3 separate regions of the Homo sapiens genome follow, and regions 2 and 3 are each linked to region 1. Evidence: fine-mapped expression QTL. A gene starts in region 1. Each other region holds a variant in brackets. All regions are shown on one strand. Distances are between the middles of the regions. Region 1 holds the start of MAP2K4 (mitogen-activated protein kinase kinase 4). Region 2 overlaps DNAH9 (dynein axonemal heavy chain 9). Region 3 overlaps MAP2K4 (mitogen-activated protein kinase kinase 4).

The links. PIP is the estimated chance that this variant, and not a neighbour inherited with it, causes the effect.
Region 2: its variant is the best candidate, but not a certain one, in a credible set for the expression of MAP2K4 in whole blood (INTERVAL, PIP 0.67).
Region 3: its variant is the best candidate, but not a certain one, in a credible set for the expression of MAP2K4 in whole blood (INTERVAL, PIP 0.63).

Annotation. Positions count from the first base shown.
Region 1 is chr17:12,018,502-12,022,501 of GRCh38, reverse strand. MAP2K4 (mitogen-activated protein kinase kinase 4) reads right to left here and starts at 1,625. Exons shown (of 11, transcript NM_003010.4): 1 at 1,501-1,625. The coding sequence starts at 1,615. It also overlaps a transcript of ZNF18 not described here. RefSeq lists a silencer at 909-1,788 and an enhancer at 1,325-1,825.
Region 2 is chr17:11,935,653-11,939,652 of GRCh38, reverse strand. It overlaps DNAH9 (dynein axonemal heavy chain 9), which reads right to left. Exons shown (of 69, transcript NM_001372.4): 66 at 2,131-2,301. Among named protein-coding and RNA genes, the nearest start is that of ZNF18, 60 kb to the left of the region's middle. The variant C/T (reference allele first, on the strand shown) is at 1,543.
Region 3 is chr17:12,068,028-12,072,383 of GRCh38, reverse strand. The region is part of intron 2 of MAP2K4 (mitogen-activated protein kinase kinase 4); the gene reads right to left. Among named protein-coding and RNA genes, the nearest start is that of MIR744, 12 kb to the left of the region's middle. The variant A/G (reference allele first, on the strand shown) is at 2,454.

The DNA of each region.
Region 1 (4,000 bases):
AATCCTAAATTGTCATTTTGCCATTTCATTTCGCCCCAACCACCACCACCTAAATTGTAAAGCTGTACAGTCAGGAAGTCAATCTTATACTTCATCAGTATAATGTGCTGTGCAACACAGTGGGCATCCAATAACTAATTCAATTTGAATGAATTATCTGAGGGCCTGCACAGAAAGTGTCCTCTAAGCTCTGACATCATCCTGTCTATATATCTATCACTGGTTTTTATGTATATTAAAATTATTTCATGGGGAGGGTGACAGGGATGTAAAGATAAATAAAATCCTGTCTCTTCTTTCTGAATTATGGCATGCTCTATAAACATGAACTATTCAATAAATGTCTGTTGAACCTAACTAAATGCTAGAAGCCCTTTAAGAGGAATGGAATCAAAAAGTAACCATGGTCACACTGACTACCAAGGGTACCCCAACCCTTATTCTGTTAATAATTCAACACAAGCAGTTTGCTAAAGTTGTCAAGAGAGTTCTGAGATTCCCTGTTTTAAAAATAGCATTACTACTCAAAATTCCCCAGTAAATTTAAGGAAATGGTCCCTAACAGGCTCGGGCCTGGCCTGGTATTTTCACAACACCCCCTGTCAAAAGCCATACACAGCTAATAAGCATTCCCAGTGGGGAAAGTCATTAATTAGCAGAGCTGCCTCAAATGTCCAGACACTACAGTATCACTTTGACCCCTGTCTATTTCCTGTATCTCTCCATTTAAACCAAATTAAGTCTTCTTTTTTTTTTTTTTTTTTTTTCTTCCTGCACGCAATGCTAACACAGAAATCCCTGGCCTGGAACAAAATGCCTCTCCCAGGCCAATGCAGCCTACCTACCTTACAGGTGGCACAGGCCTGGGCAACCCGCCCCCCACCCCCATCCCTTCCAGCGCACAGAAACCCTGCAAAAGTTTGAAAACGCAGGTTCCAAGAGGCCCCCGTAGCCCGAGGTCAGCTCGGTGGTCCGGCTCCAGCTGTGCCCGGCGACAGCCAAGATGGCCCTGAGCGGGGCCCACTGCGGCGGCGGGGCCGAGGGGCGCCGGCCGGGGCCGCTGTCTTCGCCGCCTACCTGAGCGGCGTCAGGGACCAGGGGGCAGGCCCGACGCCCCTCCCGCTCCGCCGCAGCCCCGAGCCGGCGCGTTCCCGGAAACGGGGGCCGGGCGGGCGCCAGGTAAGCGGCGGGGGCGATGGGGACGGCCGCGGGGGCGGTCCCGGACCAGGTGGGCCCTGCGGGCCTGCTGAGAGCCCGGTAGGGCCCAGGGGCCAAGCGCAGGCAGAGGCCGCGGCCGGGGCCTATGCGGGCCGGAGCCCGGATCCAAGCCGGGCCGGAGGCGGCCGGGAGCGGGGCGGGAAGCCGGGGAGGGAGAGAGGGAGAAGCCGGCGGCTGCCGTGGCTTCCTCAGCCGGGTCCGGGGGCGTCCGCTGGGGCAGGCCGCGACGACGCGGGTTGCCGCGCTAGGGGGCTGGGATCTCGGCGCGGCCGCGTTCCTTACCCTGCATGCTGCTGACGGCCGGGTGGCCTGGCGCCGGGGACCCTACGGGGCCGGGGGTGCCGCTGCCGCTGCCGCCCCCGGAGCCGCCGCCGCCGCTCGGGCTCGGAGCCGCCATTGTTGGGAGTGAAGAGCCGAGCGGCGCCGCGGCGGCTGCAATGCAGCAAGCTCGGCCTCTCGCACGGCCGAGGGGCGAGGCTTACCCCCGCCTTGGCCCCGCCTCCGACACGCCCCGGACACGCCTCCTGACACGCCCCCGCCAGAGCCCGACGCGCAGCCCGGGCCAGATGCTGAGCTGCAGAACCGCCCGGCTCTGGGTGCGCGACCTGTGAAGCAGACAGCTGTCTTGGACCAGGGCTGCGGGCCCGCGGGGCCTAAAGTGGTTTGCAGAATTAAAGGTGGGCCTGCATTTGTGCGGAAAGAAGGTACGCAGCTTTCATCATTCCCATGGAGGTCTGTGACTCCCAAAAGTCCACTTTGTTGGAATCTCAGAACCCCAAATCAGAATAGTAAAGCTGAAAAGGATCCCAGGGATCCCTTTCTCCTCCAGTCGCTAACACATCACTTCCAGAAGGGAGTTACCTAGAGCTATGGTTACAGTCTGGAACTCCTCTTAAGCCCAATACCCCAACCCTCTACACTTCTCTGAGGGGAAAGGGGAGTCCCAAGGGGAACTAACCAAAGTGCTGTCCATGGACCCATCCCAAAACTACTGAATTAGAGGTTACATTTTAATAATACCACCAGGTAATTTGTATGCCCATTAAATTTGAGAAGCATATATTTAAGCACTCGACACTTCCCAGCCTCCTGAAATATGCTATCTACATCACCATCTTCCCCTAAATGCACACTGGATTCCCTCTCCCAAATCCTTTACATCTTGTATAAGACGAGCCGTAGTCATTATTGTAAGTTACATAAAATGACAACCCCAAAAAACAATATGAGGTTTCTTCCATTGCTTTGCACAGAGACTTTTATTTTAGGAAGACAGTAGCTAAAAGAAGAAAAAGTTCTCTATGAGGCTACGATTTGTAAGCCAACCATAATGTACTCGAAATGGTAAGACATGGGTTTCTGGCCAGGCAGCCTTGCCTAAAATGGAATAGCCAGTTATCCTACTTCCCAAAGAATCTAAGCCATGGAGCTGGACATTTTCTCCCATTTAGAAGCATTGTGTGATCTACAGCTAGACTTCTTTCCCAAAACTTCTTCCACCCAGATGTTATTTGATGCTGAGAGTTCTTCACAGCATGTTGGAAATGTGTCCTGGGTCAAAATAGCCCTGCCTTCTTGTTCCAAACCCAATTTCATCCATCATCTTGATGGCTCAGATCCTAAAAGTGGCTAGCCGTAAACATCAAGTGGAGAGGCATTAAAGGCAAATTGAAGGTGAGAGCAGGTAGGTGTACTTCAGTGGAGAGCCCGCCAGAATTCTCCTCCATGGGCCTCGTTGGCTGCCCAATATCTTCAAGTCCAGGTCTTATAAACATGGCCAGATTCCCATCTGGAAATCAGTAGCCCACCCAGCTCTTGTTGCTCCTAGGGCATCTTAATTATGAGCCATCATAACTGGCCTTTAATAAGAATTTAATATATATTCTTTTAATAGAAATCCTAGAAGCAGCACTACAGATTAGGCAACTACTAGAAAATTAATTTAAACACACACACACACACACACACACACACACACACACACACACATCCAATATTATAAATAACATATATTAAAGAAGGCTGGGGATGTTGGCTCACACCTGTAATCCCAGCACTTTGGGAGGCCAAGGCGGGTGGATTACGTGAGGTCAGGAGTTAGTGACCAGCCTGGCCAACGTGGTGAAACCCTGTCTCTACTAAAAATACAGAAAAAAACAAAAATTAGCCGGTGTGGTGGCAGGTACCTATAATCCCAGCTACTAGGGAGGCTGAGGCAGGAGAATCGCTTGAACCTGGGAGGCAGAGGTTGCAGTGAGCCGAGATTGTGCCACTGCACTCCAGCCTGGGTGACAGAGCAAGACTCCATCTATTAAAAAAAATATGTATATATATAGTTATATTTATATATATATAGGAAAACCTTCAACCTAGCAAATTCATTAAGGGAAATTGGGAAACTGAATTAAAAGAGAAATACAATAAAAATATAACTAATCTTATTTTTAAGAATACCTAATTCTGAGTTTGTGATAAAACTGACATATACTTGCATTGCTGTTGGTATTGTAAACTAGTAAGAGCCAATAATTAGATGTGCATATGGCAAAAACAAGAAAGCACTTTGATTTGTTCCAACTGAGGAAGCTATGTATGAGCTTTTTAACTTTTTCTTATGCTCACATTTCTCTTACATATTTGTGTTTTATGATTTCTTATGGACTAAATTGTATTCTGCTCCCTCACCAAATTTACATGTTGGAGTCCTAACCCCCAGCATCTCAGAATGGGACTATATTTGGAAATAGGGTCTTTAAAGTAAAATGAGGTCATACGAGTGGGC
Region 2 (4,000 bases), 83 kb after region 1:
TAACAACAAAATACTCTCTGGGCTTTGACTCTTTGCCCCTCATCTTGAGCTGACCTGCGGTGTGGACAGGAAGGAAGATAGCTCATAGGAACATGTGAGCTATGTGAGAAACACCACCATGGCCAAATACTGGGATACTGCACAATCAGATGTGCACCCAGTAACCTGCACACGTGTCCCACACAGCATTGTGCATGGCAAGTGATCACAGTTCATATCATTTCTGAAATACACAAGCACATACACACCCCATTTCTTGGGTTAGCTGGGGGAGGGGATAAGGAAATGATAAGCATTAGAACCTTCTTTGAACCTTGACTGAAGAATTCTAAGTCTATTACTTATACAGTCTCAGCCTTTTCCAGTTTTAGATCTAGGAACATTATTCATTCTGGGTGGGTTCTTCTCTTTATTTTCAAATTATACATCAAATAGTGGAATAGACTGAGTAGAGTGATATGGAGCAGCTTTCTCGAAGTATGCTCACCTCATCAAAATCACTAGGTTGCCAATGCAACCTAACCCCAGACCTCGGAGTCAGAATTTCAATCTCTCTGGCACATTCTTAGGCATATTAAAATTTGAGAAATACTATTTTGATGACATGACTCCATACCTTTATATAAAAGTCCAACTCTTTTAGTATCAGTTTGCTTTCCTAAAATCAGTCTCTAGAGGCTAAAAGTTTGATAATCTTCCCAAGGATGTTTACTTGTAAACCTAATGGCATCTCTAAATTAAAGAACCCAGCTAGGACCGGGTGCAGTGGCTCACACCTATAATCCTAGCACTTTGGGAGGTCAAAATGAGAGGATTGCTTCAGCCCAGGAGTTCAAGACTAGCCTAGGCAACATAGTGCGACCCTGTCTCTACAAAAAGTTAAAAAATTAGCAGGGCGTGGTGGTACACACCTGCAGTCCTAGCTACTCAGGAGGCTGAGGTGGAAGGATTGCTTGAGGTTAGGAGTTGCAGGCTGTAGTGAGCTGTGATTATGCCACTGAACTCTCCAGCCTGGGTGATGGAGTGAAATCTTACTCTTAGAAAAATTAAATTAAAAAAAAAATCCAGGCAGTACCATGGGGTGGATGTCAGTTGGTACAAATACATCTTTAGGAAGTTGGTTAGCTTGTCTCAGAAAAAAATTCATGGAGAAATTTCCCTTTGGTGGCCCATTCTTTTTTTGTTTTTTTTTTTTTGGAGACAGTCTTGCTCTGTCACCAGGCTGGAGTGCAGTGGCACGGTCTTGGCTCACTGCAACCTCCACCTCCCAGGTTCAAGCAATTCTCCTGCCTCAGTCTCCCGAGTAGCTGGGATTACAGGCGCCCACCACCACACCCGGCTAATTTTTGTATTTTTTAGTAGAGATGGGGTTTCACCATGTTGGCCAGGCTGGTCTCGAACTCATGACCTCATGATCTGCCCGCCTTGGCCTCCCAAAGTGCTGGGATTACAGGTGTGAGGCCCATTCTTTCTTTATCTTCAGCTACCCCCACACCAGGATCAGAGCCCCCATGTTGCCTTGGGTTGTCCTGAAACCCACAC[C/T]TCACCCTGGTCTGCCTTTCTACTCCATAATTCCCTTCCACCTTCCTAAAATTTCAGGAAGTCCTGTGCTTAGTGGCAGGTAACTGTGTATTTAGAGACTCTCGGACTAGAAGCCATTCACACGAAGGGAAGGCGTTTGCATTATGAAGGACTGTGTTCTTCCCCACTGGCATCTGGTTGGTGAACTGAGGTGGGGGTGCTCAGGGGCAACCCCTTACCCATCCTTGCTTGGTTTGCCAGGGGATCAAGAAGTCACATTCAAGGTTCCCAAGCCACCACTGTTCAGCCCTGCCCTTTCTTCACTTTGGCAGAGAAGCTGAATAAAAATGGACTTTGGGTGGACTGGCAAAGAAAACTGCTGAACCCAATGGCAGGGACTTCCTATGATTTAACTGATGGCCAGCATGGTGATGACGGGAGGGGAGAGGCTCTTGGCGGTGACAGGCAAGCATCTCCAGGCTGCAGGTGGTTGGTGCTTTGTGTGTTGTCTATGCTGTGTACTGCCAAAATGGCCAGCAGGAGAAAGGTGTGCATCTATGATCCTCGGGGTCCCCCAGAACGACCTCAGGCAGTCCCCACCACACACACCTTTTCTTCTCTTGTGGCGCCCGCTCCGTCTCTGGCCTGGCTGTCCCGAGGCTGCAGCTCCAGCACAGTGCGGAAGAGCTTTTCTGAGGTTTGGGTCAGGAAGCCAATCTCTGCGTTCGGGTGGAGGCCATAGAGGTAGGGGGATTCTGGGGGCAGCTCAGCATCGATGTACTGAAAATCAAGGGCAAGCTCACTTAAAAAGAAACCAGGACGTACCTCCCATCTCCCACACCGGCTTGTCCTCTGCAGGGAGTCCATGGGCTAGTATCCCTCCTCCAGGGGACACTGCTCACCATCCCTGGTTGACTTCATCACCCTCTCCACCTATTAGTGCACCTTGACATCATCCATTTTTGTCGGCTGGACCCGTTTCCCAAAACTTCCACATTCATTCTATCATTCTCTTTTTTCTGGGAGGCTTAGATGACTTTATCTATCTCCACACCCAATGCCTCCCACTCCTCCCTGATGACTCTTTTTCCTGCAGACCAGAGGAGGACTTCTCATAGTCTTTCAAAAATACGAATCCCTCCCTAGTGATTTTACGTAAGCTCTTCTAGGATTCCAGACCTTTCCTTCTTTTCTCTCCCCTCCATCTAAATCAGATATGACAAACCTGAACATGTACATGGGATGGCACATGCAAAATAAACAAGTGAATTGGGCTTAGGACGAAGGAGGTGAGATTGGCTGCGAACTGGAGAGTTTGCGCCCCTGGTGAAAGGTATTCAAATAAAAAAAATTTTGAAACTATGTGTCACCCTAGCAGCTCCTTTCTGTGGCCAGTGCTAGTGGCTAGAGTCTGCCATGCCTAATGCCTAAAAATCCTAACCAGCGGCTAAGGCTCAGTTTTATTTTATTTTATTTTATTGTGTGTGTGTGAGACAGGCTCTCACTCTGCTGAAAAAACTAGAGTACAGTAGTGTACAGTAGAGTACACAGCTCACTAAAGCCTCCACCTCCCAGGCTCAAGTGCTTTCCACCTCAGTCTCCCAAGTAGCTGGAAATACAGGTACATGCCACCATGCTCAAGCCGATTTTTTATTTCTATTTTTTGTAGAGATGAGGTCTCACTATGTTGCCTGGGCTGGTCTCTAACTCATCAGCTCAAGTGATCCTCCAGCCTTGACTTTCCAAAGTTCTGGGATTACAGGCGGGAGCCACCGCGCCTGGCTCTGAATGTTTTGAGCGCCTCTTCATGGCTCTTTATACGATGGTGGGAAAATATCCCTCAAGTTCCGTTCCTGATATGATTTTGACGATTCCTTGGTGTTATTAACACCTAGCCTAATAGATTGCCCATTCCTCAAGGGCCGATCTGTATGTTCATTTTTGTATTTCCTCCAGCGTTCTGTGCAGGCCTGGACTCTATGTAGATGCCCTAGAACCATCTATTAACTAACACATTAAAGAGAAGTATAAGAAAGAGAGTGTACCTCAGTCATTTGGAAATGTGCAAATCGATTTCACCCTTGCTGAATAAGAAAAACAGACTTCCTTTGCCTGTTACTTGCTCCAGCCTCCTGTCGAATTATCCCATGGACACTAGGGGACGCTGTTGCACAATTTTCCCGGGAAAAGCCTTTTTGCCTTTGGTGAAGTAGTTAAAAACATTTCCTCTTATTTTCCTTAAAGAGCTTTATTGTTTTAAATCTCCTCTTATAGGTCCAATTTTTCTGGATCAAATGACTTTTACGATTTACCCTTAAGTTTAATGAATTAAAGAAATTTTTTTAAAGCTTGCAGTTAATATTCCTGTGATCAATATTTCCCTTATGTTTTATATTCAAGAGTTTTTCTAGGCATGTTCAAAAGCCTACCAATAAAAACTGCTAAAAAATATCTTTCGGGCCGGGCGCGGTGGCTCACG
Region 3 (4,356 bases), 50 kb before region 1:
AAGAAAACGCAGACTTCACTCTTGTCCTTCTAAGAAACTTCCTGAAAATACTGTATTGGGCTTCATGTTCCTCCTCTGTGCCCATAAATGTTGAAATCAAGATACACCTAGTCTGTTCCAAACTCCTGATCTACAGTCCTAGTAACACTTTCAAAAAAGTATATTAGGCTAGTTTGGAACTGCTTACTTACTCTTAGTGAACCCTAATTTGGATTAACCATTTCTATTTAATTCTTCTATGATCATCTCCATGAAGTCTGTATCAGAAGCTTCATTTCAAAGTGCGCAGGTGAGAATATAGGCAATATAAGGTGGCTTTTCTCTGCAGCTCCAGCGTCTACATTGGAATCCCTTGCCTACTATTTGATTCTTCACCATGTGAATTCATCACTTTTTAAACATTTCAGAATATACCCAAATACAGTAAATGAGACTTCCAGGGAATGCAAATAGATACCTACCACTGTTATTATGGTTTACAAATATGCCCATATGAGAAGAGGAAAATGTCACAGACCTTCTCTCCTGCCCAGGCCAATAGTTTGTATACTCCCACAATGACAAAAAGGCTCTCAACAAAAGCCAAATCTCAGGTTCACTGGTCTATACATTGGTGTGTACCTTCTACACTGCCACTCCTCTACTTGCTTATTAAGTCTACTTCTTTTGAATCATATATATATATTTCCCAGTGCCGTAATTTAGCGATGAGCCATTCCTCAAAACTGTGATTTTTGTTTTTGTGCCAACCATTTTTCATTAAAATTTCAAATTCATTTTGTTGTTTTTTTGGAGGTGGGAGTTAGGGTGAGAAAAATATGAAGAGACAAGAAGAGAACGATATGAAGCATCAGGCACTGGTCTTCATCCGTCTCCAGTGAATATTTTAGTACTCTTTCTCCTATGAATTTTCTAGTACTCCCTTTACTCTACTGCTTATGTTTGTGTCACAAAGGCTATCTTCTATGATTCAACTATGCCTCTATCACCTTGCCTTTGAAATGTGAGTTTAATATCTTCTCCAGCAGGTCAAAGGAAACACTAAGAACTGGCTATCCTTAATATACAATGTGATTTAAGAAGCCAAAACCCAGTTCTTCAATACCATCTGTAGTAGGGTGAACTATACACCACCCACCACACAAAAAAAAGATAGGTCCATCCAGAATCTCAGAAAGTAACCTATCTTTACGGATAAAATTAAAGATCTCAAAAAAGAGATTCTGGATTAGGTGGGCACTAAATAAAATAACTATCCTTATAGGAGACCAAACAAAGAAAAGGAGAAGATAGAGATGCACAAGACAGACACAGGGAAGAAGACCATAGAGATTACGGTTATGCTGCCACAAGCCAAGGAAGAGCAGCAGTACCAGAAGCTGAAAGAAAGGGGGGATCCTCCCCCAGAACCTTCGGGAGAAGCATGGCCCTGCCAACACCTTCAGATTTCTGGCCTCTAGAACTGTGAGAGAATAAATTTCTGTTGTTTTAAGCCACCAAGTTTGTGGTAATCTCACAGAAGCCTTGAAAAATCCAGTACACCATCTAAATCATGAGTCACAACCTTTTTCTGTAAAGAACCAGATAGCAAATATTTTAGGCTTTGCAAGCCACTAGTCTCCTGCAACTATGCAGCCAGATGGGTGTGGCTATGTTCCAATAAAACTTTACTTACAAAAACAAGCAAACAGGATGGATTCAGCTCATGAGCTGTAGTTTGCTGACTACATGATATAAATGATACCAAATGGTATCTAGCAACCTAAATTGCATCTATCATGCAAATAATCTAAATCATATTTTCTATATCCTTTTTCTCTTTTACATTTATAATTATGCTCTATATGATAAGCACCTTCAATTATCTGCCCAAATCCTATAGTTCTGTTTCCAGAATTTAATCTCAAGATACATTTCAGAATTTTTCTTGAAAATGGCCCACCAATCAACAGAGAGTGGAATTAGGGGCAGAAACCCTTCTAGGATTCTCTCATCACTTAGGTAAGTACGCTAAGATGGCAGCAAACCTCCTTGTTTAATATCCTGGACATCTCTCATATCTACCTATCTTTCAGCAAGTAATAGCTAATTATCTTAACAGATTTCTTTTTCCTGCACATGAGAACTTGATTTCTCAAACTTGACAATGTCTACTATTTTCCTTCAATAAATAAATAAATATCTTCTTGTGCCTAGAACCACTATCCGTAAGAACCTTTTATTATTTAATTAGTTTGAAGTATGTTTTCTCCTCTTATTTCACTATCACATTCTTCTACCTCGATCATCTGATCTTGATTTCTTCCCAATGCTATCAAATATACCTTCTTTCCCAAATCATTTCTTCCTTCTTTTTCCTAAGCAACTTTGACTGTATCAAGCCAGCATATACTAAAACGCCCCAAGCTGTTTTACTGTCTCCTCAGCATGCATATATATATATATATATATAT[A/G]TATATATATATATATATATATATATATATATATATATATGACTAATCTTCCTTAGACAGGAAAATAAAGGTAAGACATACCCTGCACATCACTGCAACTGTTCTTCTGTGTCCGTACTGTTACGATCTCTAGATGAATACTGCTTTATGCATCCTTCTGCAATGCAGCTCTGTTAATTCCGGAAATTTCCACAGTAAACTCGGTCTGTCAGTTACCATGGAAACTGCCTGCTTCCTGGCACTACCAACAAATGAGTATCTTTGCTGTGATCTAAGATGAGGCAAAAGGAAAAACTGAAAAATGAAATGTCCAGAAGAATGGCTCAAACATTCTAAATAGAAAATTTCAAATTCTGATACTCATATTTAGTGAACAGAATGTATTAGACAAATTAGATAAGTCTGCAGTATTCTGAAGTAGTACTGATTTATGACATACAAAGAAATGTTTTATCACCACAGAAAAGAGTAACATTAAAGAGGACAAGACAAACATTCATGTTTGCATCATGTTGCTATTGACTGTTTCCTAAGAGCTGATCCTGTGTCAGTTGTACTCTAAGTTTACCCTTAGAACAGTTTTTCTGGGCTATGCTTCTTCAAGAAAAGGTAAGGAAAACTGCCCTAAATCTATAGGTTACATGTTTTCATGAGATCCTTTCCCTGTTTAGGCCCCAATTTCCAGTGGCAGCTAAAACCTCTTCCCAAGTAAGTAAGAAATTAAGAGTAGTTTAAAGTGTATCTCAGGAGTTTTTGCCAACAAGGTAGCTTTACTAGCATTCTCAGAACATTAGACATAGCCAACCACAATTCCTTCCCAACTGCACTTTGAAACAATGCTAGATTTCTATAACATCATGCACTACCAGTTTGCTTCCTAATTATCAAGCATCTTTTAATTTTTGCCTGTCCCTCCTCTTCTATCCAACCTCTAAATGTTAGATTTTCTTGGGGCTCAGCCCTGGACACAATTTTCTCATCAAAATACATTCTCACTCTCTTCCTAGGCAACCCTTTCATCTATATGGCAGCAATTTTCAACTTTTTATCTCCAATCTACAACTTCACTTCTGGCACCAGACTCATATTTTCAACACCAGAGTATGTGATACATGCACATAAGCACAGAAACACATGTATACATAAATACATATACACACACGCTATATATATATATAATATATATATGTATGTTTTGATATCCCTAATAAAATGTCACAGGTCCCTCAAACTTAAATATTATCTAAAACTCGATCTTGCCCTATGACCCCTATTTACAGATGCTCCATACCCAGTAGTCTCCATCACAGTAATCGCAACTAAACCCATTAATTCAAGCCAGAATTCTACAAGTCACTATGAACACCTTCCTCCTTGTCATCATCTACATTCAAATTATCACCAATATTTATTAATTACTTCCAAAATGTCTTTACAGTCTCTCTACATGTACTGTCATCAATTTAATACTATTGAAGTCATGATAGGTGACTATTACGCTTTACCTACATTACCATAGTTTTATCAGGTCTCCCTAACTATATTCTTACCTCCTTTCAGTACATAGTCCACACGGCAGCCAGAATAATTACTTTAGACTGTAAATAATCAGTTTAAATTGTAAATCACTGACCTACTTACAACTTTTCCATAACTCCCCACTGCACTTTGGATGTCATCCAGCTCTTTATCTACAAGGCCCTACATTATGTGGCCCATCTCTCCATACCTAACTGTCTCTACACCCTTAATCTAAATTTGTTTGTTTTTCCTTTCTCATTCAGTCACCCTCCATGTGAACTGCCATTCCTTCCATTCCATGACAAGTTGAATATTTCCCACCTTGATAATTTCAAATACATGCGATTCCTTCCACTTGGAACACTCATCAATCCCTTCCCCA